Linked DNA regions of Homo sapiens: regions 1, 3, 4 and 5 are each reported to be linked to region 2. The links are microRNA targets in miRTarBase. Many come from high-throughput screens and were not tested one by one. Region 2 holds a microRNA gene; each other region holds the end of a gene's coding sequence.

Evidence for each region. The annotated mature microRNA hsa-miR-3662 reads GAAAAUGAUGAGUAGUGACUGAUG and lies in region 2 at 2,632-2,655, opposite strand. An mRNA with a match to its seed (bases 2 to 7 or 8) in the 3' UTR can be bound and repressed. Matches are read on the target gene's strand: a 7mer-m8 pairs with bases 2 to 8, a 7mer-A1 pairs with bases 2 to 7 and ends in A, and an 8mer does both.
Region 1: miRTarBase lists TMCC1 as a target of hsa-miR-3662. Seed matches in the 3' UTR shown: 7mer-m8 at 4,328-4,334, 7mer-m8 at 3,183-3,189 and 7mer-A1 at 1,626-1,632.
Region 3: the mRNA of PNN is a reported target of hsa-miR-3662. Seed matches in the 3' UTR shown: 7mer-m8 at 1,914-1,920 and 7mer-m8 at 2,671-2,677.
Region 4: miRTarBase lists CENPK as a target of hsa-miR-3662. Seed matches in the 3' UTR shown: 7mer-m8 at 355-361 and 7mer-A1 at 855-861.
Region 5: the mRNA of SGPP2 is a reported target of hsa-miR-3662. Seed matches in the 3' UTR shown: 8mer at 3,965-3,972.

Annotation. Positions count from the first base shown.
Region 1 is chr3:129,646,935-129,653,504 of GRCh38, forward strand. TMCC1 (transmembrane and coiled-coil domain family 1) reads right to left here. Exons shown (of 7, transcript NM_001017395.5): 7 at 858-4,861. The coding sequence ends at 4,547. Among named protein-coding and RNA genes, the nearest start is that of PLXND1, 44 kb to the left of the region's middle. RefSeq lists a silencer at 4,672-4,966.
Region 2 is chr6:134,976,724-134,983,293 of GRCh38, forward strand. It overlaps MIR3662 (microRNA 3662), which reads right to left and starts at 2,709; the gene lies at 2,615-2,709. It overlaps HBS1L (HBS1 like translational GTPase), which reads right to left. Exons shown (of 18, transcript NM_006620.4): 13 at 5,735-5,839; 14 at 2,455-2,545; 15 at 1,956-2,064.
Region 3 is chr14:39,180,386-39,186,955 of GRCh38, forward strand. It overlaps PNN (pinin, desmosome associated protein), which reads left to right. Exons shown (of 9, transcript NM_002687.4): 9 at 118-2,835. The coding sequence ends at 1,478. Among named protein-coding and RNA genes, the nearest start is that of PNN-AS1, 7.8 kb to the left of the region's middle.
Region 4 is chr5:65,514,677-65,518,676 of GRCh38, reverse strand. CENPK (centromere protein K) reads left to right here. Exons shown (of 11, transcript NM_022145.5): 11 at 44-911. The coding sequence ends at 202. Among named protein-coding and RNA genes, the nearest start is that of ADAMTS6, 35 kb to the right of the region's middle.
Region 5 is chr2:222,557,565-222,564,134 of GRCh38, forward strand. It overlaps SGPP2 (sphingosine-1-phosphate phosphatase 2), which reads left to right. Exons shown (of 5, transcript NM_152386.4): 5 at 783-5,057. The coding sequence ends at 1,334. Among named protein-coding and RNA genes, the nearest start is that of FARSB, 95 kb to the right of the region's middle.

The sequences.
Region 1 (6,570 bases), not on the chromosome of region 2:
CATAGCTCACTGTAATCTCAAACTCCTGGGCTCGAGTGATGCTATCACCTCAGCCTCCTGAGTAGCTGGGACTACAGGTGCCTGCCACCACACCTAGCTAAATTTATTTTTTGTAGAGATAGGGGTCTCACTATGTTGCCCAGGTTGGTATCAAACTCCTGGCCTCAAGTAATCCTCCAACCTTGTCCTCCCAAAGTTTTGGGATTACAGGTGTGAGAGCCACCACACCCAGTTTTTACTGGCATTCAGTAAGTCTCCAAGGTTTTTAAAGGATAAAAATAAAGCAGGTTTTGAAATTATGTATCGCCCATTATCATGGCAGCTCTATGTGTCCCGTATGCACTACACAACTCCTGGATGTTGTTCACAGTTTATCAGACTTATGAAGCCCCCGCAGGGTTGGGCAATATACAACCTGCATATCTGTACATGGCAGCCTGGCCCATATTTTAAGGGGAATTTTCAAAGATTTCACAAGATGTATCCCTTGCTCTCACAACATCCACCTGTAGGATCAAGTTGGGTGGTGTGGTATCACTAGTTTATACATGGGGTAAGAGGCACACAGCTAGCAAGCCAGAAGTGGGACTAAAGCTCTCGACATTCAGACTGGAGCTGTGAAGGACCGAATCATCATGTCTCTGCTTGGTACCAGGTCAAAGGCAAGTTTAGGACTTCAGGATTTCCAGAGGCCTCCCAGAGATCATCAGGAAAAAGTCCTAATAGAAATTACTACTTTTATAACAAAACTACAGGTGGCACTAGGCTGGATAATAATGCATTACATGCATGTAGAACTACATATGTTAAATGTTTCAAAAATAAAAAGCAAAACAAACATGAGTCTGACCACCAGGTTAATAGCTGAGGTCTTTATTTCAATTTCTATATACAGTAAAAGTGCTGCTGAGAATCTGCAGCGACCAGACAGAACATAAATTTAAATCTCTCTCAACAATTAGCAGCTTAAGATCTATCAACTACAGTGTTAACGTTCACACGTTCACAAGTGTCATTTCTTTACGTTTCAATTCGTGCAAGTGAGTTTTTATTCTTACACACTTTGATAAAACACACAGTCTAGTAGTCAATCCCTACTGAGGATATCACCTAGCATACACGACATACAGACAGCAATGTTAACTCTTAGAGCCACATTCAAAATCCCAGGTTTCATTTGGGGTTGGGGTGTGGGAACCATAATTTTGCCTGTGTCAGATTACAATAATGTTTGGTTTTGTTTTAGTTGCATATTTTCCAAAGCTGAAAGGCAGCTCCTCATTGGAACTCTCTCAGAACTCAGCATTTTCATCTGACTGTACCTCAAAGGAACATGAAATCAGAAACAAAACCAAATGCAGTGAAGACCACATGAAAATACGCTCATTATTTGGACATGGCTAGTGAGGAAGGCTCGCTCCCAATATTTGTCTTGGCATCAGACTTTTACTCCATTCAGAACAGGGGAGAGAGAAGACCCTAGTCAGTGAAGTATAAAATTTAACCTACTTTTGCTTCTTAAGGAGCCAGTAGAGTGGAAAGCCTTCCTTACTAGGACATACTGAGTATACCAAGGAATGGAAATTGGAGCAGACAGAAGTACCCTTCAATTATCATAAACAATGTAAAATGCGCATTCTACAACCTGAACAATCACCCAGGCCAACACAGCCAGCTTCACTCACCCAGGCTAGAGGCATGGACAAATAAACCAGGAATGTTTCATTTTAAAGGGAATGAATACAGTTTTCTTTTCTTTTTTTTTTAGAGGAGCATTCAAATGAGGGGACGTTTCCACCCAGAACAACTGTTAAGCCATTAGAGCGAGGTTATAGAAGAGCTCTGACAAGACAAAAGAACCCAAGAACAACCACAATGAAAGAAACTCAAAAGTAACAGGATGGGCAGCAAAAGGTACAGCAAAGAATGAAAACAGATGCATGGTTACAAACAGCATTAAATGCGTACAACTTCTGGGTCTGGTGAATAATTAAGGGACAAGAAAGCCATTACTGCACCTGATCTGCACTGAAGGTCCTTCCTAAGACAGTTTGAGAAAGGAAGATAGAAAGTCAGCATGGGACTATTTGGCTGGAGGCAGGGGGCTTTCTACAGGTGAAAACCTTCCTTTGATAGATAGAAACCGTCCCAGGGCAAATAGGAACAGTTTCAATCCATCTATCAAAGTGACTTCCAGTGCCCACAAAACTTAAGTCTTCAGGCAGTTTGGGGGACTCAAAGGTTCTAGCTTAGAAAAACTGGTGGATTGCTGCTAGGGCATCTTTTAAATAACTTTGTGGGGGCTCTCTACTCTGAGCAATTACGCTAAAGCAGAAAGTTAGGAGAAACTGTCAGTTCAAAAAGTTCATAGTGTCCTTTGGCACTCCTGCCTAAAAAGTCACTGCAATATTTTTAGGCAAAGTTAACATTTTAATACATATAGGCTTGGGGACAATTTGTTTTTGGCATGAACATGAATTGGTTCTAATTTTTTTTTTTTTAAAGAAAAAAAGCACCCTTGTGGCCCTGCTCTGGGTGCAGTTTTGAGGGGGCAACAGAGCTAGCAGGTGTACTACAATCAGCTGAGGTTGGGGTGAAGACTGGAGTACCTGAGTTAAAATATCAAAGTAGTTATGGAAACAACATGCTGGCTCTGAGAAATCCAGCTTGCCAAAGCAAAAGGAGGCTGGCACCATTAGGTAAACTGTCCTTTCAGACAGGCAGGGCAATGCTAATCTAGTTCTGAAGGAATTTCCTGGTAAGTGGAAACAGGCAAAGCATACTTTGTTACTCTTTTCAGGGCATCTTATATGCACTTGGTTGCACAGAATGAGGCTAAGAGGGAACAGCATTTGTGACCAATACTACAAATAATATGGAAAGATTAACCAAGCTCTCTAGATAAACTCTAAATGTTCAAGTTCCACCAGGATGATGGAACTGGTTATGCGACGGGGGAAGGCAGCTCAGTTCATTTTTCAAAACCATCTATAGAAGTCCACTGAGCATAATTAGGTTAGGTTAACAAGTCCGTTTACATTATAGGAAGCTGGCAACATTTCACACCCAAAACTTGGGTCCTGCTAACCTGACATTTCCTTCACTGCTCTTTAGGAGAATCACCTTTGGTTGATTCTCTTAGGCAGACAGAATAAAGCTTTGAAATTAAGAATGCTGGGGCCAAAATGAAGACAGAAGACTCCACATCATCACTTTGGTTGTAATTAGGGGTGTTAACAAAATAAATTAAGGAAACACAAGGACTTATTTATGACTCTTATAGTCTCAACTTTTCCTAAAGACAACCCCAGCCCAAGATCACTGGGTGAACGTTTTCTTGGGGCAAAAAAAAAAAAAAAAAATCCCTATCCTACTACACTGGTTTTTGGAAACAGCCTCCTGCTCTCCTTGCACAACCCTTTCCTCTTCAACTAAGCCAAACCCATAAAACGGGGGCGTAGGTATGTCGGGACACCAAAAAGCAGCAGCAGCAGCCAGAGGGAGTTTAAACTGCATCTCAAAACAAAGGCGGCAGAGGGCAGCATTTACAGCAAGACTTTCTTACTCAAACTGTTTCAAGACAAGAGGGAGCAGCACACTTAAATATCCACACATTTCTTCATTTAAAAACATCACTTCTTTATTTCAAAGGAAAAATAAAAGACCCTCCCAACCCTGTCCAAAAAAACCCAATAATAATAATAACAATAATAAAAAATCCTATTAGAAACCATAAGGAAGCACTGAGAGTTTGAGTATTACATTCTTCAAGTATGCTGTTCGGATTTTTTATTTTTAGGTTGGTAACTATACACATATAAAAAAACCTTAAAAGTGCGGCCAAGGGATTTTGCTTAAAATTAAGTATTTAGAGGGCTACTTAAAAATACTGTAGTAGGACTGTGCAGTGATCCTTTGGGGGATGATGCTTTCACTTTTGTATCCTCGTCAAGGTTAAGGGGCAGGTTCAAAAGTGATCATACTTCCAGGATTAGCGTAAGTGGCCAACTTGGGTGAGAAAGCCAGAGAGATCCATGTGTTCTTCCACGGACAACGAAAATCCACCCCGAATCCAAAAATTCAGACATGGAATGTGGTAGGATTTCACAGTAAAGTTAGTCTGGGATAGGGAGAGGTGATGAGCCCAGACAAGGCAGGGTGTTAGGTTTAACTGGTTTGCCCTCATCAGGTTTTCGCATCTTTTTAGTGGGTTTTAGTGCAGTCCTTCAAGCCACAATTTAGATTGCCCTTCGGTGTGCTCCAGATTGTTGGTTCATATTAAAGGACTGTTTTAAGATTTGCATCCCAAGGAAAATCATGCTACATAAAAATGATCCAAGATTTTCGCCCAAAAAACTTCTTGGATAAAATCTAAAAAATACTATTGCAATTGCGTCTCTTGAAGAAAAAAACATTATTCTAAATGTAAACAGATTCACTCAACTCTTTTTTTGTTGTAGAAAACTTCAGAGTAGGTAAGTTGCTGTCTAACTCTCTGCTGCATGCACTCGCCAGAGGGTAGGGAACAATGCCTTCTGTGCCAGCATCATCTAGGGGATGAAAAGAACCGTTCCACATAGCTGAAGAGGGCGTCCCAGTGCTTCCAGAGAAAGGCAATAAAAACCACAAGGAATAAAGTGCTGAACGTCCTGTTGCGAGTCTTCATGAGGGGGACCACACAGTTGGCTACAGTGGAGACAAAGACCAAAAGGACTGCCATGACAGCCAGGAGGATGTTGATGAGTTTGCCCAGAAGGTTCCGGGCAGTGGCATTCTCCAGCCCTTCTAGCTGCACCACCTGCTGCTGCTGCTGCTGCAGCTCCATCTTGGAGATGCGCGTCTGGCATGCCTCCAGGGCCTCCTGTGGGCCAGAACAGGGAAGAGTTAAGCCTTCTGCTCACAAGTATTCTGAGATGCTGACATGCCCCCTGGGCAAGCCAGATGCATCTTGAGCAATGCCAATGATTTTATAAATATGCTGGAGCCTTGAATGAATGTAAAAGGCTAGATGTATAACTCACTATTCAAGTGATTATTATTCCCCCAAATTGCCCTCCACTGCATTCCAGTGGGATGAGTCACAGGAAGCAGTGGCCACACTTAACATTTATTTAGTCTAGAACATTTTAATGACAAGACCACAAATATATGCTCTTTTTTCATTGAAAATTAATCTAAGTTGCACAGAATATATTTGTTCAACATAAAAAATTTCAAATAGGATAGTCTCTCTTGACATTTCCTTCAATTCCAATCCCTGTCCCTGAGGCAGTACTGTTTGTGTTCACCCTTTTATGTGTGTAAGTGTATGCATATATGTGTCAAGGAAAATATACGGAATTATTATTTTTATTTCCTATCTGTAAACTAAAAATAAAATCCTAAGACCCCCAGCCAAATGAACGGACTCCCTCTTGGCCAAAGTGGACCCCAAAGAAACCTGAAAAAGTGAGTTCTTGGCAATGATGGGAAAGAGGCTGGACATGCCTTATTATATCCCCTCCCTTTTTGAGTTGTGGCACAAATGACCAGCATTAATGTGAAAATAGAGATCATAAGACTGACAGAATGGACTCTTTGTGGCAGTAAGACATCAAATTATAAACAAGACCTAAGGCCATGCCAGACAAGGTTAAATCTCACCCTATAAACCATAAAATCTCATCAGTTTTTAAAAAAATTAACTGGTGTTAATGTGGCTTTCTTTCCAACCTGACTCAGGTATAGCATCACATGACAGACAACAGACTCCGTTAACTTAGGCATTTTTGTACTGGCTTCAAGTCTTTACACAAAGCTTAACTCTTTCAACCGACTGCCAGCTAAAAAATTCCTAAAGCCCACTATGACTTGTTAGCCCCTACTTAGAGATGGCCCACCTTTTTGGGCCAAACCAATGTATACTTTCCATGTGTTGATTTAGGATTTTACCTACAATTCCTGTCTCCCTGAAATGTATAAAGCCAAACTGTAACCCAACTGCTTCAGGCATATTTTCTCAGGACCTCTTCAGACTGTGTTCCCCAGGCCATGGTTACTTGTATTGGCTCAGAATAAACCTCTTTAAAATATTTTACAGGGTTTGGCTTTTCCAAACATGGAATAGTATCACACTATAGGAATCGATTCACAACTTGCTTTTTTTTTCATTCAACAGTGGGTCTTGGTGATCTCTCCATGTCAATACACAGAATCTACCTCATTTTTTTTTAACTGCTGCCTGGCATTTTATAGTATGGCTAGGCTATGTTATAATATATGCAGCTAGTTCCCCCTTGGGGATTTTTAGGTTGTTTTCAACTTTTCCACTATAACAATGATGCAGTGAACATTCTTTGAACATGCTTCCTTATACACACTACCTGGTGTTTTCTAAGTCAAGTCAATCCCTGACATCAGTGGAAAGGGATCTCTGATCTGCCTTCTTAAGAAGGGCACACTCTCCTTTAGTTTGATCCTCTGTAAAGAGGACACTATGCCCACACACTAGACCAAACATTAAAAGTGTCTATTCTTGCTATTTTTTTGAGACGGAGTCTCGCTCTGTCACCCAGGCTAGAGTGCAGCGGC
Region 2 (6,570 bases):
CAGTATAGGGGACACTGGAGACTCAGTAGCGGGTAGGGCTTGAAGGGGGTGAGGGATAAGAAACTACATCTTGGGTACAATATACACTACTTGGGTGATGGGTGCACTAAAATCTTAGATTTCACCATTATACAATTTATCCATGTAATCAAAAACCACTAGTTGGTAAAAAGAAGTAAAAAGAAAATTGACAAATAAATAAAAAACAAAGGAAAAAATTACTTGTACCCAAAAGCTACTGAAATAGAGTTTCCCATACAAAATAGGGAAAATTTAAATATATTTATGTAGTATTATGGCATTAGTCCCTAAACAGTAAAATTTTAATAGCTTAGGAAACCTTTGTTTGCTTAAAAAATTTTTTTTCAAGTTTTTCTCCCATAGGGAGTAGACTGACAAAATATGGCCATATTTTTCTGAAACAAATTTGATCCTGGTATTTCTGAATCAATATATGCTGGCAGAATCTCCTAAAGCAACAGTGAAAAACTTGCAATTCATGCTTATTTTTAAGAAACTACAGTAGTCAGGGAGACAGTATTACTATTCAAAGTCACTTCTGACCTCTTCATCCCTCTACCTCTCCATTGGCAAATATTATTATTGCATGAGTAAAAATATGCAGTAACCAACCCCTCCTTTGCCTCATAGGACATACTGCTTTCTGTGAATGAGTTCCATTCGCTCACAACAATTAACTTGTTGTTACTTGATGATCAATACATGAATTCTGAATATTTAAGTATCTTCAACTATAGCAATTTTTTTAAAAGAAGCTTTTCTTTTCTAGTGTATGGAAGAAATGGAATATAATTATGTAAGTAAAGTACCTAAATAGTACCTTAAAATATAATTTTACATGATCAAATTAATATAGAAATAATTACAAAGAATTATAAAGTACAAGGTTATCTCAAATATAGGTGTATCAGTATAAATGACCCAAATAAATGTATTGCCAACCTCTAAACCACTATCACTAACTTTAAAAACTCTTACTTTTATTTCAAAGATGCATCAAATGGTAGAAACATCACTGAGAAACATTTATTGTCATGCAGAATCTGTACTATATGAGCTAATTAGAAAAAAAAGTCTAATGGGAAAAATGGTCATCTGTCACGTGACAAAAGCAAAGTACAAAAACTATAAGAGTACGGTCCCAAATATCTCAAAACAATTACACATAAAACAAAAAATCCAGACTATTCACAAGTAACAGCTTTTCAGGATAAGTAACATTATTGTATAAAATCTCCCTCTTCCCATAAAATGTATATGTTCAAATGATGCTGGCAAACCAACCTTACAACATGCAGGTTCTGAATGTGTTGCTTCAGCACAACTGAATGTCTAGGATCCCCAGACATTTACTGTATGTCTAGGATCCCCAGAATACACCCAATACATACCAACTGGGTGGATAATATGCTCACATAAAAACACACTGACATGTAAAGATATATATCTATGGATTATGCAAGTATATGGCATTTTTATTTTCCATATTTTTAAGTTTTCCAAAATTTTCTATGCAATCTATAACTTTTATTATCAGAAAAACTGCAAATCGACATATTAAAAATGGAAACCCAGAATGATTCAACCTAAAAAACTTAGAAGTAACTAAGAAAAACTTAGAAGTAAGTAAACTTTAGAACACAGTGAAAATGTGTCTATCATTTTTCCCTGGATAAATTTTATTATCATTACTTTGTATCCTATTTATTATTAAATATCTTCTCAATGCCTTTTAAAAAGTCCTCAGGCTCAAAGATCAAAATAAAAAACAAAATAAAAACGATTTTCTAATTATAAGTTTTTCTGGATTACAGTAATAAGATGTTAATTCAAAATAAATATAGTATCACCACTTGTAAAGAAAGTTACCACTTTTAGGATAAAGTTACTTTGAATTTATAAAAACAGGAATAATAAAACATTTTGGAACTTACAGGAAATCCTTTAGTGATAGGAATTTCAATATTAAAGATGAGGATTCGGGCTCTGAAACGAGTGCAAGCTTTAATGGGTACTTTGGGGCCACAAAATATGCAGCCAACACTGTAAGAACAACAAAAAAAGAGGAAAGGTAATTGGGGGACAAATTTACATCAAATAGAAAGACCTCAAAAACATTTACAAGGAAAGTAAAACAATTAAGTAAATTAGGGACTTTTTCTAAATATTCTCTTCTGAGCTAAAGCATGACTTTAAACCATTATTAACCTTATGTCATTTTTATACATTAGAGCTTTCACTCAAAGCACATGCCAAGTATGTGTGCTGACATGTATTAATTCAAATTTTAAGTAAGTTTGCTTACATTTACACAGGTGTCTATTTTTGGTCAAATGAAATTCAAAATTGAACTAGCAGGTTGCAAAATATATGTGTTTAGAGGTGAGGTCCTATATGAAGACAACGGTTGCTTAAACTCATTTTCTCACTCACTTGATTTTGATGATATCCATCCCAACCAAAGTAAGACTAACATGATCGCCTGCTGCCGCCCAGTCGACAGGTTCATCATGCAGAGTGATTCCTGGAAATGAGTAAGAACCAAAGCATACAGTGAAACACCTCGATATCAAACCATAACAACCAACAGAGTTTGGCTGATTTGTGCTTCATCAGTCACTACTCATCATTTTCAATATGAATGGATTGAGAGTAAGAAGTGTAACTGTGAGCGTTGAGGAAAACACACTTCCTCTAGAACTGACTCTTCTAGAATACCACCCTAAACATAAAGTGACTTGTATTTGCCCATAAAAGGCTGACTTCTGCTTATTTAATCAAGATTTTTAAACTAATTGACACAATTGGTATATTCATTAAACAGGCCCCATTCAAATATTTCTATCATATTAATGGATACAGACAAAATAAAACACAGTTCAAATTATTCATAATGACATAAAAGATGGGCTGGAGAAGATGTCTAGCAGTATTTTCTTCTCGAGTTTTGCTTTTAATTAGACAACCACCTAAACAAATAATCCTTGTTTTCCAAGTAACCCATGGGACATGTACACTCAGTCAGAATTTCAAGCGGTCCTCTCAGCAGGCCCCTTAACTACTCCTGGCTCAAAAGAACTTCTTTCCAGAGAGAGATCTGCATACTAATGACTAGTTATATGAAAAGAAAAATATTAAGGAAATAGTGATAAGAAAATTTAATTTTAAAATGATCCTAGGTGTTGCTATATATCTAGAGATATACATCTATTTACCTAGACATAGTCCTGAAGGTAGTCGGAGAGAGCAGTTCCCAAGGGCAATACTCAGCTACCTTACTCAAAGGCTTTTAAAATATATCCCATATTTTCTGATTTTATGGAATACATTTATGGATTAAGTTCCTTTCCATAGAAATGTAGGCCTTTTGACAAAGAGAATGTGTAGGCCAACCACTGTGGATAGTTCTTGATTGACACATTGACATGTTCTTAGTAAATTATAATCCACCCATATCTTTCTGAAAATACTCATTTTCTATGCAGCAGGGAGAGTTTCTGACTTTTAGGGAGCTCAAGGATTTAACTTTAAGAGCTCTGAGACAATCTAGAGTTTCATGCAAAATATCATGTATGTGCACATCTGCATTAATCTGAGAAAAGAAGGCATAACTTTCTTCAGGTATCAGAGATTCTTCCTCCCAAACATGTTAGCAATTATCGTATTAAGGAATGTTTGTTAAATATCAACTTACTAGATTTAATTTTAAAATGTAAATTTAGAATGAACATATCTGAATTTTGCTATGAAATATGGGATTAAAAACAGAAGCTAGGTATTTACACACAATAGAGATTGACTTTGGCTTAAACATTTGTAGATGTTTTATACTACAAGTTCAATTAACAGTATAAAATTTTCCAAAGGTAATTATATTCTCTGGTTCTTCTTCCCCTCAATCATGTTACACTGTTCCACATATGACATTTATCAAAAAACTTTTCTCATTGGACAAACATTACAAAAAGAGGCTCTTTTTTAATACTCTATGAGCTTGATATGTTAATAAAGTAAAAAAAAAAAAGTAATTTAGAATTTCTATTTGTTGGTAGTAGATTCAGTCAAGTCTTTCTTTTGGGACAGTACTGGTTAAAGAGCCACAGTAGTACCTAAAAATGTTTAGACAGAACAGTGCTTTCAAGAATCAAGTAAACCAAGCAAAAGCAGTAAGGTTAGAATGGAGGAAGGAGAACCTCTCTGTTGAGTTAAAAGACTGGCTCTCAAGAAGTAGGGTGGTTCTTCCCTGGGGCTTCTGATAAGACTTACACTGATAAAAGATAATACTTTAGAGTTTCTCTGTGTGGAAAGTACAGAGAAGAGGAGGGTAAAGAATGTGAGACTTTCAGAGATGACTAAGGATTTTAGAGGTTACAAGGGAGCCAACCTCAAGGTCTGTGATAACTTTAGGATCATGGTTTTAATTTATGGCTCTTAATCATAAAAAAATTCTTGTTCTCAAAAAAGATCATTAACATACCAAAAAAATCGTGTTTCAAAAGTATTATAGCTCTTGTCACTTTAAAAAACAAAAGCAGAGACCTGTACTTGCACACAATGAACAGATCTATAGAAAATGACACTATTTTTAAAGTGCATATTACTTTTTATCAAAACTGAAATTTCATGATCTCTAGTGGGCACAAATAAAAAGGTCAAATGGAAATAACTGATTTTCATTCCCTTATTCATCTTTAAATATAGGTTAAACCATGTAACTTCAATAGATATTAATTTCTTAAACTTTTCAAGAAATCTTCTTTTAAAGAGAGCATATGAATTCAAGAAAAATATACATTCAAATTGATAAACTAGTCAGGTACAACTCTAGATATAAACTATAAATTAAGAGTAACAGAGGGAAAAATACTAAAATCTAAAAAATTTTTGCATTTCCAATAGGTTATACTTCAGCTTAAAATGGTTACAAATAATATTATTTTATAGTATAAAACAGATCTTCAGAAGTCAGAGGCTTAGTTGGAAGCCAGAATAAAAGAGGTATAGAATTAGAAAGTTTTAGTCAAAATCTGGAAAATAATATACATGTACATGTAACATATAACATGTATACATATACATAAATATATATATGTGTGTATATATTAGAAGACAGAAACAATTATCAGTCATTATGAAAAAAATTAGATCTATATGCAGAAACAGTGACTGGCAATTTAAACTAGTTCAATTTCTCTTTTCAACATTGGGTTTTTCTCCATTTGAATGTTACTTATATCTTCCTATAAAATATACCTACATTTTTGGCATAAACATGATCAAAGCTGTTAATTTATAGTTATTCTGAAACATACATTTCAAAGTAACAGACTGTAGAAGGCTGCTTTGCCACTGACTAGTTAGGGTAAGGCTGGGACTAGATTTAATTTCTGCTACAGAATATTATTCCAAATACATCTGTGAGGTATCTATACATATCTGATTAAATCCTAACCAGGCTTCTCAGATCTGTGTCAAAAATAGAATGCTACTACAGTTAGAATGTTTATGTACATATATATACAGACACAATCACAACAGAAAAAAATCGTTTAATGTTTTCACATTTTAATCTTCAACAGTCAGTATCATTTTGACAGTCAGTTACAATTTCAGTAAGAGGTTACTTACTTTGGAGTTGTAACTAAACCACTTTTTAAAAATCTGCTGTCTCAACTTAAGGCTTGTTTAGCAAAAGCATCTTGCAGATAAATACCTTTCACGGTACAAGTTTCATTAGGAGGCATTGCCAGTAGTCGGTCACCAGTTTGGATATAACCAGCTTCTATTTTACCAGTTATGCAAAATCCAGATCCTTGATCTGCAAAACATACCAAAATCTTATGGTTCATACAGCAATGTTATCTGATGATTAATACCGTTAACTATACTTAGTTCTCAAGTAGTCATATAAAACTAGTAGTTCAATGGACATTAAATAATAATCATTTCAGAATTAACATCTCTACTAAATATGGCATACCACACTTTACTTTTTTTTTTTGCAAATAAAAATACTCATATTACCAAAGAAAGGTTCATTCCTTTCTCAAATATTTATTGAGAAATAATAAATACGTAGTACCAGATATTATACTAAACTCTGGGGATAAAAAAAAATAAAAATGTAAGTCCCTGCCCATAAAGATATTATACTAGTGAAGAGAAAGATGGAAACAATTACATTGTCCTGAGACAAATAATATGTAAAATATACAATAGAAACACAAAGGTGCACCAAAGAATCCATGATGGTGAGAATAGACATCTGGCACTCTGAAGAAGGAATAAGTGTTTATTAGGTAGCTTGTATGCATGAGTAGGGAGAAAAAGGAAGACACTGCTGCCCCAGGAAACTGTGTGGGCAAAGGCATAACCAAATGTGGGATGGGCTAAGAGTCATGTGTCACTTGTGGGGGCCATGGGGAGGGGACCATATAGAATAATGAAGAAAAGGTAAGACAGGAGGCAACAGAGATAGGCAAGGGAGAAATAATAAAGGGGTCTCATAAATCACGCTTAGGGTTTAAATTTCATCCTGCAGTTAAGTAA
Region 3 (6,570 bases), not on the chromosome of region 2:
AACTTTACAAAAACAAATTCAGATGAAGCTTAATGACAATTTGTGACCAGTTATAAAATTATGGCTTTGAATTTTCTTAATCGGTAAATTTTACACATGTAAATTTTTATTCTTTAGCTTTATTTGAAGGTAGACGCATCGAATTTGCAGAACAAATAAATAAAATGGAGGCTAGGCCTAGAAGACAATCAATGAAGGAAAAAGAGCATCAGGTGGTGCGTAATGAAGAACAGAAGGCGGAACAAGAAGAGGGTAAGGTGGCTCAGCGAGAGGAAGAGTTGGAGGAGACAGGTAATCAGCACAATGATGTAGAAATAGAGGAAGCAGGAGAGGAAGAGGAAAAGGAAATAGCGATTGTTCATAGTGATGCAGAGAAAGAACAGGAGGAGGAAGAACAAAAACAGGAAATGGAGGTTAAGATGGAGGAGGAAACTGAGGTAAGGGAAAGTGAGAAGCAGCAGGATAGTCAGCCTGAAGAAGTTATGGATGTGCTAGAGATGGTTGAGAATGTCAAACATGTAATTGCTGACCAGGAGGTAATGGAAACTAATCGAGTTGAAAGTGTAGAACCTTCAGAAAATGAAGCTAGCAAAGAATTGGAACCAGAAATGGAATTTGAAATTGAGCCAGATAAAGAATGTAAAACCCTTTCTCCTGGGAAAGAGAATGTCAGTGCTTTAGACATGGAAAAGGAGTCTGAGGAAAAAGAAGAAAAAGAATCTGAGCCCCAACCTGAGCCTGTGGCTCAACCTCAGCCTCAGTCTCAGCCCCAGCTTCAGCTTCAATCCCAGTCCCAACCAGTACTCCAGTCCCAGCCTCCCTCTCAGCCTGAGGATTTGTCATTAGCTGTTTTACAGCCAACACCCCAAGTTACTCAGGAGCAAGGGCATTTACTACCTGAGAGGAAGGATTTTCCTGTAGAGTCTGTAAAACTCACTGAGGTACCAGTAGAGCCAGTCTTGACAGTACATCCAGAGAGCAAGAGCAAAACCAAAACTAGGAGCAGAAGTAGAGGTCGAGCTAGAAATAAAACAAGCAAGAGTAGAAGTCGAAGCAGTAGCAGTAGCAGTTCTAGTAGCAGTTCAACCAGTAGCAGCAGTGGAAGTAGTTCCAGCAGTGGAAGTAGTAGCAGTCGCAGTAGTTCCAGTAGCAGCTCCAGTACAAGTGGCAGCAGCAGCAGAGATAGTAGCAGTAGCACTAGTAGTAGTAGTGAGAGTAGAAGTCGGAGTAGGGGCCGGGGACATAATAGAGATAGAAAGCACAGAAGGAGCGTGGATCGGAAGAGAAGGGATACTTCAGGACTAGAAAGAAGTCACAAATCTTCAAAAGGTGGTAGTAGTAGAGATACAAAAGGATCAAAGGATAAGAATTCCCGGTCCGACAGAAAGAGGTCTATATCAGAGAGTAGTCGATCAGGCAAAAGATCTTCAAGAAGTGAAAGAGACCGAAAATCAGACAGGAAAGACAAAAGGCGTTAATGGAAGAAGCCAGGCTTTCTTAGCCATTCTTTGCAGCAGAAGATTTCTTGATAAAAAAGGATTACCTTTCCTTGTAAAGAGGATGCTGCCTTAAGAATTGCATGTTGTAAAAAATCTTTTTGGAAAATACAGACTGTTTGTTTACCAGACATTCTTGTACTTTTTGCATAATTTTGTAAGAGTTATTTATCAAAATTATGTGAGGTTCCAAAATATGTAAAAATGATAATAATAAAAAAAGATTAACATCCCTTGTCATCTTTTTTAAATATCCTATACTCTTCAGTAAGAATCTGTATATTTTAATAGGCAAATCTTTAAGTCTGTTCCCTTCTAATTCTGTATCATACATTGCTTTTGTAGAAATAAATGTGTGTTTATTTCATTATTTTTGGGATGTCCTCGTTGACACTTGTATAATAAATATCCTCTTTATCATTTTCAGCTTTTAACACTAGATACTGCACGTGATTAGAATGTTTTTGAAGGTTTCCTCGTTTTTATTTGCCTTGGACAGTTTTTAGTTGTCAGAGTCAGAGCTTTGCAGCTTTGAGGGGGAACAGTTCTCTTTAAAATCATTTGCTATTTTCTATTCTCCCTTGTTATTTTAATCTAAGCATTTTCCCCCGTTTCTCATATTTTAACCATATGTTCGGTAGATAACTAAACAGTATGATCTGGTTGGCATTTTCTTCCTGATGATGGGAGCGTCATTCTTTTGTCTTCATGGTTACTTGTGTGATATAACATACATCTGTTAAAGAAAATCACTTCTTTCTAGGGGAGGGAGGTAGAAAAGTATCTTTCAAACTTGGTTTTTGAGTTTGTGTCTTGTCTTAACTTTGTGTTGGCTCTAACTTAAACATGCTGATATGTGTTTTCAAGAATTTTGTTTAAGGAAGTATTGTATGGAAGTCCACAAAATGAAGGAAGTTCATCTAGGTTTTAATATGTAAGCAAGATAACACACAAGTGTACCAAGTGATTATTAACTTTGTTGTTTTACAAATTTGTATGAACTTGGAGTATCTGTTGGCCATTACTATACATGTGCAAATAAATGTGGCTTAGACTTGTGTGACTGCTTAAGACTAGTACTTGTATTAACTTTCTGATGCTTTATACAAGAGAGCACTTAAATTGCATCCTTCTTTGAGTTTAACACTGTAGCTTTAGCCTTGACTTTGAATATTCATTTTGCCTTCCCTTGACAAGTAAATGGTTACAGTGAAAATGTGAAGAAGTATTTCCAGTTAGTTTTTGTGTGTATATAACTCACTTGTGTAAGTGGATGTGTTAAAAGATCTCTTTTTAAAAATCCTTTTATTGGAGTAATTATTAAAACAGTAAATGCATAGAGCTTTGCACAGCAATCTGTATCCATGAGCCAGTTCCACCACTAGTACCTTCATCTGTGGCTTATCCAGCAAAATGTTTCATTTCCTGTGTGCCCTGGCAGGAAAGAGGTTGGTAAATAGTGAATTAAAGGGATGATCATAAAATTTAACCTGGTTAAAAAGCACCTTATTTGATGACAGTTTGTATGCACTAAAATCCTTTATACAAATTAAGTTTTGTCTACTGATTTGTACCTGGAAAATCTGAACAATATTCATGTTGCTTACAGAAAAGGCTAGTATTGGCTTGAAGCTCTACTATAGGAGGGGTAGTAATGGGGGTATAATGAATGCTTGAGGGGAAAGTAATTTTCAGTAATTTCAGTTAAGCGCTACTGATCATAGTATGTGAAAGGAATTTTTCTTATATGGAATGCTTGATGAATTTGCATGTCATCCTTGTGCAGGGGCCATTTTAATCTTTTTTTTTTTTTTTTTTTTTCTCGGAGACAGGGTCTTAGTCTGTCACCCAGGCTGGAGTGCAGTGGCACAAACAATCTGACTGCAGCCTCGACCTCCTGGGTTCAAGGGATCCTCCCACCTCAGCCTACCAAGTACCTGGGACTACAGGTGTGCACCACCATTCCCAGTTAATTTTTTATTTTTTGTAGAGACAGGATCTCACTATGTTGCCCAGGCTGGTCTCGAACTCCTGGGCTCAAGCGTTACTCCTGCCTTGGCCTCTGAAAGTGCTGGGATTACAGGCGTGAGCCACCACTCTTGGTCTGTGTTCCAATTTTAGTATGTGCTGCTGAAGTGAGCACAGGAATTTTAATAACAGATTGTACTAACATTTTTAAGTGGTATTCATTTTTAGGTTGGAAGGTTTAATTTTTTAAATATAGTATTTTAGATTTTTTTGTTTCCGATCAGTGCTTTATCCTTGAACTAAAATTTTATGGAACTTAATGTTCAGAGAACCATGGAATTGCACTTGAAGAGACACAAGGAAGAAGAATGTAAAAGTAATGACAGTTTCCCAGGGGGAAAAGACATGCAGTAGTCTTTTTTTTTTTTTTTTTTTTTGAGATGGAGTCTCGTTCTGTCACCCAGGCTGGAGTGCAGTGGTGCGATCTCGGCTCACTGCAACCTCCGCCTCCCAGCTTCATGCAATTCTGCCTCAGCCTTCCAAGTAGCTGGGATTACAGGCGCACACCACCACACCTGGCTAATTTTTTTTTTTTTTTTTTTTTTTGTATTTTTAGTAGAGTTGGGGGTTTCACTGTGTTGGCCAGACTGGTCTCGAACTCCTGACATCGTGATCCGCCTGCCTTGGCCTCCCAAAGTGCTGGGATTACAGGCATGAGCCACGGCGCCCGGCTAACACGCAGTAGTCTTCCTACTGGAGATTACAAATTAGTGTTTATGGTTGAGTGCAGTGGCCTGTAATTCCCAACACTTTGGGAGGCTGAGGTGGAAAGATTGCTTGAGCCCAGGAGCCAGAGACCAACCTCGGCAACATGGCAAAAAACTGTCTACGAAGAGAAAAACTAGCCGATTGTGGTGGCATGAGCCTGAGTCCCAGCTACTCTGGAGGCTGAGACAGGAGGATTGCTTGAGCCCAGGAGGTTGAGGTGAAGTAGCTATGATCACACTACTGCACTCCAGCCTGGGTGACAGAGTGAGACCCTGTCTAAAAAATAACAAAAAAACCCAAATAGTGTTTATGGAAAACTTAGGAGCTGAAAGGGGATAGAGATGGTGAGTTAGGACTGAAATCAGTTTAGAGCTGTATTAGGAAAGACAGGCTGGGTGCTATGGCTCACACCTGTAATCCCAGCAATTTGGGAGGCTGAGGGTAGAGGATGGATGGCTTGAAGCCAGGAGTTCAAGACTGACCTGGGCATCAGCAAGAATCTATCTCTACAAAAAATAGAAAAATTTAGCCATGTGTGTACCTGTAGTTCTAGTTACTTCGGGGGCTGAGGTGGGAGGATTGCTTGAACCCAGGAGTTTGAGGTTATAGTGAGCTTTGATGGCACCACTGCACTCCATACTGGTGACAGACTGTCTAAAAAAAAAATTGGCAGAGATGTCTAAGGGGCTATTAAGGAAACATCTTTTAAGATACCAAGGTTTGGGTAACCACCAAAATAAAGATAGTTTGAACTTCAATGAGCTGTATTTCCAATCTAGGGTCCTTCTACACACTATCTGTAGAATGATAACAATTTACATGATTACTCAGGTAATTTGGGCAAAGCAAAAGCCACCATACCAATAATGTATTGACATAAATTCAAAAGGAAAGAGAGTAGTGATTACATGGGCCAATGCTATTAGAGTCAGTCAAGATGTGGGTTTAAAGTACATAAACAAGAATTTCTTTTATGGCTAATATTGTGTAAGAATTTTTTTATGACTAGTCAAACTTTAAAATATCTTCTGAAATCCAACGACAAATCCAACCCATTTTCCCTTTTTGAGGTTAAAATGAATGTTATTAAATCACATAGCCCAGAAAATGTAGCTATGTATTTGATTCAATACCACTACTCTAGTAAGCCAGTGGGGTAGAGACTACAACTTGGTAAAAATAAACGAGGTATCTGAGAATGTTTTTCTTACGCCTGTCTTTGTCTCAGCTAGCAGGACTTTTTTTTTTTTTTCTTTTTTTAAATAGAGATGAGAGTCTTGCCCTGTTGCCCAGGCTGGTCTCGAATTCCTGAGCTTAAGCGATCCTCCCATTTTGGCCATCCTAAGTGCTAAGATTACAGGTGTGAGCTACCATGTCCAGCCAATCTTTTCAAAAAAGGAACTTAAATAATTATACTAAAAAAAATGATGATACTCAAATGCCTGCAACTCCACTTTCCATGGCCAGTTGACTACCCTATTCAAATTTGTAATAGCTGCCACTCCTTGCCATGACTGTCCCAAAATCTTTGGTGTTGGCCGGGCACGGTGGCTCATGCCTGTAATCCCAGCACTTTGGGAGGCTGAGGCGGGCCCCTGATCATGAGGTCAGGAGATCAAGACCATCCTGGTTAACATGGTGAAAACCCCGTCTCTACTGAAAATATAAAAAATTTAGCCAGGCGTGGTGGTGGGCACCTGTAGTCCCAGCTACTCGGGAGGCTGAGGCAGGAGAATGGCATGAACCCGGGAGGCGGAGCTTGCAGTGAGCCGAGATGGCACCACTGCACTCCAGCCTGGGGGACAGAGCGAGACTCCATCAAAAAAAAAAAAAATCCTTGGTGTTAAGTGGCTTGGTCTCTCTTTCCCACTTTCTTTCCTCTCTTTCAGCACATCCAAATATGTTTGAAACAATGAGCCAAGTCACATCCTGAAATTTGTCCTCGTTTTCTTCCAAATAATGGAAACAACAGTTTCTGTGACATTTTTTGTAAATATTTTGTGTGCTGTGCAGCTAAAGGGTGACCAGAGTGCTCCTTGTACATAGTAGATCTGAAAAGGAGTATGGAGGAATCAAAATTATTTGGGGCTCTTTGTCAAATTACTCAGCCTTTTTGGAGATTTCAGATACAGCCCAACCCTTTAAGAATCTTTGTTGTCTTAGTGAACTAGTGTTACCTCTTTAAATATGTTATATATCTCTTTTGATGGATGAAGAACAAAGTTATCTAGGAACTGAGATTATATAATGAAGATTAAAAAGGGCTTTTGTTTCTCTTCTAATTTCTTATTTATGTGAATTTAGTTGCCTTTCATACTCTCAGACTTCTTTTTCATCC
Region 4 (4,000 bases), not on the chromosome of region 2:
TTTTTCCCAAGTAAAGTATATTTTGAATGATATTTTCTCCTAGATTCTTATAAATAGATTATTTGATGTTCCACATGATCCATATGTCAAAATTAGTGATTCCTTTTGGCCACCTTATGTTGAGCTGCTGCTGCGTAATGGAATTGCCTTGAGACATCCAGAAGATCCAACCCGAATAAGATTAGAAGCTTTCCATCAGTAAAAGGATGTTTTCTTTTTTCACACAGTAAAAATTCTTATCATTCAAGGATATTGGAACCACAGGACTATTTGGATAAAAAACATTATTTGCAAATTAATGCGCATAGGCCATCTTACTTTTATTGCAAAATGGCATGTGCTGCCATCTATTATTCATTTTTAAATGGTCATTTCTTATTCAGTGAGTGCTTTAGTGTTTTAAACTATATGGATAAGAATGCAGGTAGATAATATTCTAGGCATAAAACATTTAATGTACCTTACCTCATGCAATATTCTTTGGATTCTTTGTTGATTTATGATATTGCTAATATAATATTTTCTTAAAATATATAACAATATCTTTTATGCATTTTGAGTTCCAGCTGGTGCTTCTTTATATTTAGAAATTATAATGGGAAGGTCATTTAATTTACAGATGGTTTTAAAATTGAGGTAATATCTGAGGTGGCATAATTTAAAAATATTTAGCAAATTTGTTTCATATATACTGTCTTATTTCTAGATTTGTTTAAAATTGGAATATGAAAAACTAATGGATAAAGCTAGCATAAAATTGATATTTTAGTTTGTATTATTAATATATCATGTTACCTTATATATTAATCTACTCTTGATTCTGCTAATTATTACCAACAAAATTGTATTCATGACATTTTATTAATCCTCTGTGAATTTTCTGTAAATAAAATTATTTCTGAAAATCTCTAGCTATTAGTGATGTGGGATATTTTTATAAGTAGCAAATGTTTTTTAAAGGCCGATAAACTAAGATATAGGACTCATTTAGTATTACATAACAAGCTAAACTAGAGAATCCTAAATCCATTTAGTATCATTAGTTTTCTAAGATAAATTTGTTTATTTTTTTACTTGAAAGCGCTTTCTACTGTATATTATCCAAGTCTCTGGCTTACCTTAATTACTTCATATTTTCTAAAGTAAACAAATATTTGAAGTATACCAAATCCCTCTGTAGAAAATACAAATACTATTATATTTTAGGGAACGTAACTCTTTTAGGGGAGGATAATATATAAAGTACCTCCTAGAATACTGCAGTTGGATATTGAAGAAGTGAGCAACTTTTTACTCTTTGAAGTTACTGGAGAGGGAAGAAATGGCAGTGTAGGTCTGACAAGAATTCTTCAGAGCAGGTAGTACTGTTGTCCGTGAAGTACTAGCAAAACACTTTTGGTGTTTGCTAATTAAAACATTAAAAATATGTAATTGAGCCAGACACGGTGGCTCATGCCTATAATTCTAGCACTTTGGGAGGCCGAGGTGGGCGGATCACTTGAGGTCAGGAGTTCGAGACCAGCCAGGCCAACATGGTGAAACCCTGTCTTTACTAAAAATACCAAAAATTAGCTGGGTGTGGTGGTGCACACCTGTAATCCCAGCTACTTGAAGGCTGAGGCAGGGGAATCGCTTGAACCTGGGAGGTAGAAGTTGCAGTGAGCCAAGATTGCGCCACTGCACTCCAGCCTGGGTGACGAGCAAAACTCCGTCTCAAAAGAAAAAAAAAAAGTAATCCTTATGCTTGCAATGCCTACCAATAGACTGTATTCTTCTAAAAGTTTATATGGGGTATGTCAATATGCTTCCAGTTGCTAAATGGAGTGTATCAAATACTTTATTGCATTTTATGACATGTTGACTCAAAAATTAGTAAGTGAAAAGTTGCTAATAGCTTATTTTTAATATTCTTAATACTTTCCCTAGTTTATTGTTTATCCTACAACTTTGTTTTGATGGAATCTTGCTTTTTTTTTAGCATGTAGAGATGTAAAATTTTTAACTTATTTTTGATTATACAAAAAATGCAGATACTACAGATAAAACTGAAATTTCGTTTGATATTTCCTATCCAGGTCCTCTCTGCCTTGGGGTAACCACTATTTGATACATGCTATTATTTTTCATGTTACGTTATGATTATTCTCTTCCATCATTTGACTGTGTCCAGAAGATCATCCATTTTAATGAATCTTGTTTTGCAATAATCAGAGAGCCAATTCACATGATGGTGGATTGTTCGTATCTGTTTAATCCTGGTAAGAGAGCAGAGACAATGGAATTGTACAAGATGCTGGATTAAACTTAGAGAAGGCAGAAAAGTGGAAGACAAGAACAAAAGATCGATTAATAGAAAACATTAACAAATATAGTAATTTATATCAATCAGTTTAAATGTGAGTTGTCTAAATACACAGATACTGCCACAGTGCATTAAAAAACGACTAAACAAGAAATCCACTTTAAATACAGAGATGGAGAAAGATACATCATTTGTTATGGACTGAATGTTCATGTTCCCCTCTTCCCCAGATTTATATGTTGAAGCCCTAACCCCCAGTGCGATAGTGTTTGGAGACAGGATCTTGGAAGATATTAAGGTTAGGTGGCACCCTGACTAACATAAGGTTAGTGCCCTTATAAGAAGGGACACAGAAAGCTTGCTCTCTTTGCCATGTGAAGATACAACTAGAAGGTAGCTGTCTACAAATGAGAGAGCCTTCCCCAGAAATTGACTATGCTGACACCCTGATCCCAGACTTCGTCTTCAGAAATTTGAGAAAATGAAAATTTCTGTTGCTTAAGTCACCTAGTGTATGGTGTTTTGTTAGGGTAGCCTAGATAGACTAACATATGAAACTATACTCATCAAAAGAAAGCTGGAGTAGCTATATTAATTTCATACAAAGCTGACTTCAGAACAAGGAAAATGAGAGGCAATATATGGTGATAAAAGGGTAATTAACTTATTCTTTTCAAAAAAGACACCATAGAAGCTATGTCTTTGACTACAAAGGAATTAAACTAGAAATAAGTAATGAAAATACCTGGAAAATCCCAAAATACTTGTAGATTAAGGAACACACTTCTAAACACATAGGTCAAAGAAGTCTCGAGAAAATATATTTTGAACTAAATAAATGAAACTACAAGTTATCAAAATTTGTGAGATGCGGCTGGAAGCGGTGGTTCATGCCTGTAATCCCAGCACTTGTTGGGAGGCCGAGTCGGGTGGATCACGAGGTCAGGAGATCGAGACCATCCTGGCTAACGTGGTGAAACCCCGTCTCTACTAAAATATAAAAAATTAGCCGGGCGTGATGGCAGGCACCTGTAGTCCCAGCTACTTGGGAGGCTGAGGCGGAGGATGGCCTGAACCCGGGAGGCGGAGCTTGCAGTGAGCTGAGATTGTGCCACTGCACTCCAGCTTGGGCGACAGAGCAAGACTCCGTCTCAAAAAAAAAAAAAAAAATTTTTTTGAGATGCAGCAAAAGCAGTGGCTAGAGGGTAATTTATAGTATTGAGTGCATATATTGGAAAATGTTAAAGATCTAAAATCAATAAGCATCTACTTTAGGAAATTAGAAAAAGCAAATTAAATCCAAAGTAAGCAGAAGAAATAGAGTAGAAATCAATAAAATTGAAACAAAAACAATAGAGAAATTCAGTGAAACAAATGAAATTCAATGAAAAGTTAAAATTTATAAAACTTTTACCATAACAAAAGAAAAAACAAAAATTACTAAAATCAGAAATGAAAAGAGGTGCCATTATTACTCTTCTTGTGAACATTAGGACATTAGAAGGATAATAAAGGAATGATATGAGCAACTCTTGAGTGTACAAATTTGATAACAGATGAAATGGACCAATTTTGTGAAAGACGCAACCTACCAAAACTCACACAAGGAGAAATAACTGCCTTGCATAAACTTATAAAATAAATTGAATCAATTATGAGCTTCCAAAACAAAGCACTGGTCTCAGATGGCTTCACTAG
Region 5 (6,570 bases), not on the chromosome of region 2:
CTAGGTATTGAAACTAAGAATCGATTAATTATATTGTGCAAAGAGAAGACTAAGGAAAGAGGGAAATGTGGGACATCAAGGAGTTAAAGATATTTTAAGCAGGGAAGGAAGGAGGCGATGGAATAAAGCAAGCCACTGTTCTAAAGAATGGGATTAATTAAATAAAGCATGGTACAACTGCTCAATGAAATTGTATGCACGCTGTTTGAAATCCTGTCTCTGAAGGTGGGGTAGTAGTGTCAAGGCTGACGCAGAAGAACTTTGGTGCTACCACATCCAAATGTCTCCTCAAACCACCCCAAAGGAACATGTCCTCTACATAACACTGATGTGCTTGCTGTGTATATTTGGCTCCCCCAGAAGCGAGCTTCCTCCTTTAGCCAGCCTGCAGCCCAACCCCCAGGTGGATGAAAGGATGGTGACACCTCGGTGAAGACGGTGACAGTATTTGTGATATAAGTGTCGAAATACTAGATTTATATAAGTTTGAAGGACAATGAGATTACAGTTATTCATTAAGAAAACAAATACAGAATTTATTCCAAAAGGTAAAAAAGGTGAAAGAAGATACGTAACATGAGTAGTATGGTTGTTGGAAGCATTTTTTCGTATTTTCACTTCAAAGTTTTAGAACTTTACACTTTCTTTGAACATGTACTGTAAAATAAAACAATGCAAAAATTGTGTTTTAAATATCAAATTAGCCATACTTGATTCAAATTATACCTGTATACAAGGAAACACTCATTGGTTCACACTGTTCTTTTCTCTCCTTCCCAAAGGATGTGCTGGGTGGCGTCCTGATCACCGCACTCCTCATCGTCCTCACCTACCCTGCCTGGACCTTCATCGACTGCCTGGACTCGGCCAGCCCCCTCTTCCCCGTGTGTGTCATAGTTGTGCCATTCTTCCTGTGTTACAATTACCCTGTTTCTGATTACTACAGCCCAACCCGGGCGGACACCACCACCATTCTGGCTGCCGGGGCTGGAGTGACCATAGGATTCTGGATCAACCATTTCTTCCAGCTTGTATCCAAGCCCGCTGAATCTCTCCCTGTTATTCAGAACATCCCACCACTCACCACCTACATGTTAGTTTTGGGTCTGACCAAATTTGCAGTGGGAATTGTGTTGATCCTCTTGGTTCGTCAGCTTGTACAAAATCTCTCACTGCAAGTATTATACTCATGGTTCAAGGTGGTCACCAGGAACAAGGAGGCCAGGCGGAGACTGGAGATTGAAGTGCCTTACAAGTTTGTTACCTACACATCTGTTGGCATCTGCGCTACAACCTTTGTGCCGATGCTTCACAGGTTTCTGGGATTACCCTGAGTCTCAAACAGTTGGAAACTAGCCCACTGGACATGAAAGCCAAGACATAGGAAAGTTATTGGTAGGCAAATCTTGACAACTTATTTTTCTTTAACAACAACAAAAAGTCATACGGCTGTCTTGCTACTACCAGATAAATGATGCTGCTGTGTGAAAGGAAGAACTGTCTCATAGCGGTCATTGGTCGTCCGTGGTGGTTGGTTGTGCTACAGTTGAACCCAGGCTAAAGACCATAATCCGGATCTTTAAAGGCACACACCGCGCCCCCCCCCCCCCCGCCCGGCCCCTGCTCCTCTCGCTGTTGCACGGGCTTTGGATCTAGTCATGGGCTGGCAGGAATTGTGGCCTGGCTTAGGAATAGCTATGAGCCCCACTGGGTTCTGGAGAGCCAGTAGAGATGGGGTGATCTGGGAGGCTGGAGGTAGAGCCTTTCTTTTCCGTTACAACCTTGCCTAGCATGGAGTTATTTCTAAAATGGGAACTTTGGTCTAGGAGAAGGGGTGGCACCATATGAAACGGCATTCCTTGGACAGGGTGACTTCCTTATCGTTTATTTGGTGATTTTTTGTTTTGTTTTGTTTGAGACAGGATCTTGCTCTGTTTCCCAGGCTGTATTACAGTGGCACAATCTCAGCTCACTGCAAACTCTGCCTCCCGGGCTCAAGCAATCCTCCTGCCTGAGCCAACTGAGTAGCTGGGACTGTAAGCATAGACCACCATGTGCCCAGCTAATTTTTGTAGAGACAGGGTTTCTCCATGTTGCCCAGGTACGTCTGAAACTCCTGGGCTTAAGTGATCCACCCACCTCAGCCTCCCAAAGTGCTGGGATTATAGGCATGAGCCACTGTGCCCGGCCTCCTCCTTGTTATGATCAAATTAGACTGTGCCTGGTTGGGTGGTAAGATCACTCTGAAAGAAAGCTCACTGTGAAGAGATGAAAGGTGGAGGCAGAGCTGTGAGGTCATGGGGAAAAGCCTGCTTTCCTTATAAGTCCTGCTGTTCATGTTGGAATAAGGATCTGCTCTTCCTTGTTTCCATGCATTTTGCAGGATTCCAGGTACCATTACCACACTCTTCTGACCCATGAAACCAACTGGCTGCTCACACATCACCAAACAGGTTGGGGGTTAGCCTTCAGCACAGGTGGATACATCTGGGATTCACTGAGATTCCTGCCCTCTCCTGCTTCCTAGTGGTTTGGGACAGGCCCTCTGCCCATCGTCAGCAGTTTTTTGCTTTCATACAAACCTGGAAGGCACTGGCATCTGCCTAGGAAAGTGGATCTGTGAAGAACAGATGAACTCAATCCTTTCTGGAGTCTGACAAAGAAGGGATAGGCTTCCTTGACATTGCCTGTCCTGACAAGGCCTCCCTGACATTACTCCTCCAATTTCACAGTTACCTTCTGTAAATCTATTTTCTCATCTACTGAATAGAATCAGGCGCCCTTTTTGTCTTCCCACCTCTTATCTCTTGGCAATTTTAAGGGGAATTAATGCAAGAACAACTTTAGTGTCTCTTGGGAAAACAAGCCAACCAAATACAAAACCCATTAAGCCTACTAGGGTGAGTCCTCTTAACATGGGAAGGCGATGATTATGCAAACACCGGAGTTCCCTCCTCTTCAGTTCCTAAGAATAAAGAACAGGTATCAAGAACTTTCTTTAAAGTTAGTGTAACTATAGTTAACAAAGTATCCATTGAAGTTTAGTGCCTGTAGGACTGAGCCAGTGCTTTATCAACCCAACACATCATCACCATGTGCATACTCTAGAAAAAAAAATAGCTTCCTTAAAAGTTACAGAGGCTCTTAACGTGTTAAAACCGAAAAATCACATTTTTCTTGATTTCAAATATGTTCTACGGCCTTACTGTTGGGATGATATTTAGTATGTAACTTAGCATTCCAATTTCTCAAGAATTTTTAGGCCGGGTGCGGTGGCTCATGCCTGTAATCCCAGCACTTTGGGAGGCCGAGGTGGGCGGACCACGAGGTCAGGAGATCGAGACCATCCTGGCTAACACGGTACCCCGTCTCTACTGAAAATACAAAAAAATTAGCCGGACGTGGTGGAGGGCGCCTGTAGTCCCAGCTACTCAGGAGGCTGAGGCAGGAGAATGGCGTGAACCCGGTGAGCGGAGCTTGCAGTGAGCCGAGATTGCGCCACTGCACTCCAGCCTGGGCGACAGAGCGAGACTCTCTCAAAAAAAAAAAAAAAGAATTTTTAGCAAAACATCCTGTTTTTACTTAAAATTCTTCTCATATTTATTATAGTTAGAAGGCAAAGATCAAGATGACCTGCCGTTTGACTGCTTTTACATCAAACTCTGCCCAGTATTTGCAGCACAACTCAGGGGAAGGGCCTTAGCTTACAGGTACTCCCAGCCTTCATCTGCCCCTGCAGAGCAGTGGCTGTCAGCCGGATGCGGCACTTTTCTGTATTTTCATCCACACAGCTGCCCAGCCAGAGTTCGCAACACTGGATATTTACACCAAATAATTGTGGTTGACTTGTCTGAAGCCAGCTGACAAAAGGATCAGCTTTTCCCACTTGTATTTTTTAAAAAGAGGGATTGTGATCATTGTCACAGAGTGGGTGCTGGCCTCTCATATATATGATATATATATATCATTTTATATATATATATATATCATATACATAATTTTTACTGCTGTCTCTAGTTTTAAGTCCCAACAATAGGAAGGCCGATCAGCTATATTGATATATTTAAGGCTGTACTTAACTAATTTGGGCTGAGGATGAATATATCAGCCACAGCACATTAAAGAATGAGCCAAGGATTTGTCATGGTTGGTCACTTTTTAAAGTATTTGATTACTGCAACTGGAGAATGAAAAGTGTATATTGGTGACGCCAACCTCAGTTTCTGAGCACTCCTGCTCTGTGGTGAGAATCAGACAAAAATTCATCGGGGTGAAAAAGGCATTACCTGATTCACACCCTTGTCTTGCTAGCCCTCTTCCATTCATTTCTCACACAGCACTTTGCTCTGTTAAATCCTCTCTCTGTCTCAGACCATTGCTTGCCCCTTCAAAGGGTATGGTTCAGGCTCCTTTCAAGACATTTGGAGTTTCTCTCTGGGGAAAGAGAGCCCCCTACTGGTTTGGCTTCAGTCTAGGTCCACCATCCCTCTCGATCTGGCATCTTGGAGATTAATTTAAAAGGCAAGCTCACCACAATGTAAGCCTATGGTCTGGCCAACCTTGCTTTTGGGAACTGTGACACCAAAGCCCCCAGGACTATCTGCCTCTCCAGGAGCCAGATAGAATGACATGCCTTTTTCCTAATTGTCCACATTCCACCCCCAACCCACTGCCACTGTGGGCCAAGCCATCCATCTTGCAATCTTCATCTAAAACAGCTCTCATTTCATGCCAGTTTTGCTCAAACCTGCACCGTCACAAGATATTCAGAAGATGAAAACGTAGAAGACACCCCTGAATTAAAAACACTTACATAGCAGTGGCTGGAATTACTCCAAAACGTGCCCAGTGATCGCACTGTAACATGGGATTTTCTCACCCAAATAGGCAACTCATGCTTCCTGAGTGTAATCAAAGCATGTGGTGTTTTGGGGCCATATGCACCAGGTTTCTATTTTAGAAACCTTCAGCTGTCTTGCTTATGTACTGTATGTAAATTTATTCTTTTTAAAAATCACTTTTATTTGATTTTGACTTATTAAATGCTTTAAAAGCCAGTGTTCTGTTTCCTTGCATTTTTTTCTTAACGTAGATCTTTTTCTCTGAATTCATTGGACCTGAGTTGAAAAGGGGACAAAAATAAGAGGCAGGCTACATAATTCTCTGTTCTTGTCATAATCCAATCATGTGCAAATGTTGGAGAGCCTTGGAGGACCCACAGGTGTGGTAACAAGAAAGAAGTGGCATGTTGGCATCCTTAAATCCCCTCCTCTACTCCATGATACTAAAGAACCTCCTTTTACTTTATATGGAGTTAAATGTCACTATGTTTTGAAAGGTAAATGTTGTAAGTTTTGCTAGTTAAGGTAAGTAAAAGGTTTTTAGAGATGCGTTCTCTATCTGCTGAACCAAATAAACATAACCGTCATTCAAATTCACAGTGTATCACTGCAATGATGTGGTCTGCCTTTAAGCATCCCAAATTTGCTATTTGAGATGGTACATACAGTTGACACTGCCCCTTATTTGCAAGGGCAGACCTAGGACTCTATTTGTACTTTGAGCAGGACATATGAGATGTAAAGCTCCAACCTATCCTGTGCAGTTTTCGCAGGACAGAGAAGACACAGGGGCAGAGAATTACAATTCAGGAGCCAAATGGTTAAGGCTGTAGGGAAGAGAAAACAACGACATGGGAACTGGGAGGAGGGGTAGACTGCATGAGCGAGGTTTAGAGAACAGATGGGGTTTGCACAGGGAATGTGACGGGAAGTAGGTAGGAGATGGTACTCCATGGCTAGAGAACAGCGTGTCTGAGGCACTTCCCAAACACCTCCAGCTCTTACAAGAAAAAAAACCAGACCACGTTGGTGATCGTAAGAATAACAGTGGTGGTGGTGGTGGTGAAATAAAGGATGAGCATAGGGCTGTGACACCGCAAAATCAAACCACACGAACAAGAAGTGTGAGAAGGCCCTCCCAGAGGGGGTGACGTCCAGAGGTGACTTCACAGACTCCTTTCATCACTCCTCATTCAAATACAGTTGCCCCTTGAACAACTCGGAGCTCAGGGGTGCCAACCTCCTATGCAGTAAAAATGCATATAACTTATGACTCCCCCAAAACTTAACTACTAATAGTCTGCTGTCAATGGGAAGCCTTTCTGATAGCACAATCAGTAGATTACCACATATCTTATGTTATAGGCATTATATATTGTATTCTTACAATAAAGTAAACTGGAGAAAAGAAAATGTTAAGAAAATTGTAAGGAAAATACATTTACCCTTCATTAAGTGGAAGGGGATCATCGCAAAAGTCTTCATCCTCATCTTCATGTTGAGGAGGCTGAGGAGGAGGAAGAGAGGGAAGAGGAGGGGTTGTTCTTACTGTGTCAGGGGTGGCAGAGGCAGGAGAAAATCCACATACCACTGAATGTGTACAGTTCAAACCCATCTTGTCCAAGGGTTAACTGTACTCACCAGTCAGCCCGAGCACCTTCCCCGTCTGCCATCTCTGCACGCACAGCGTCATTCCCATCCTTCTTGTTCCTCTCTTGGCAGACATGAC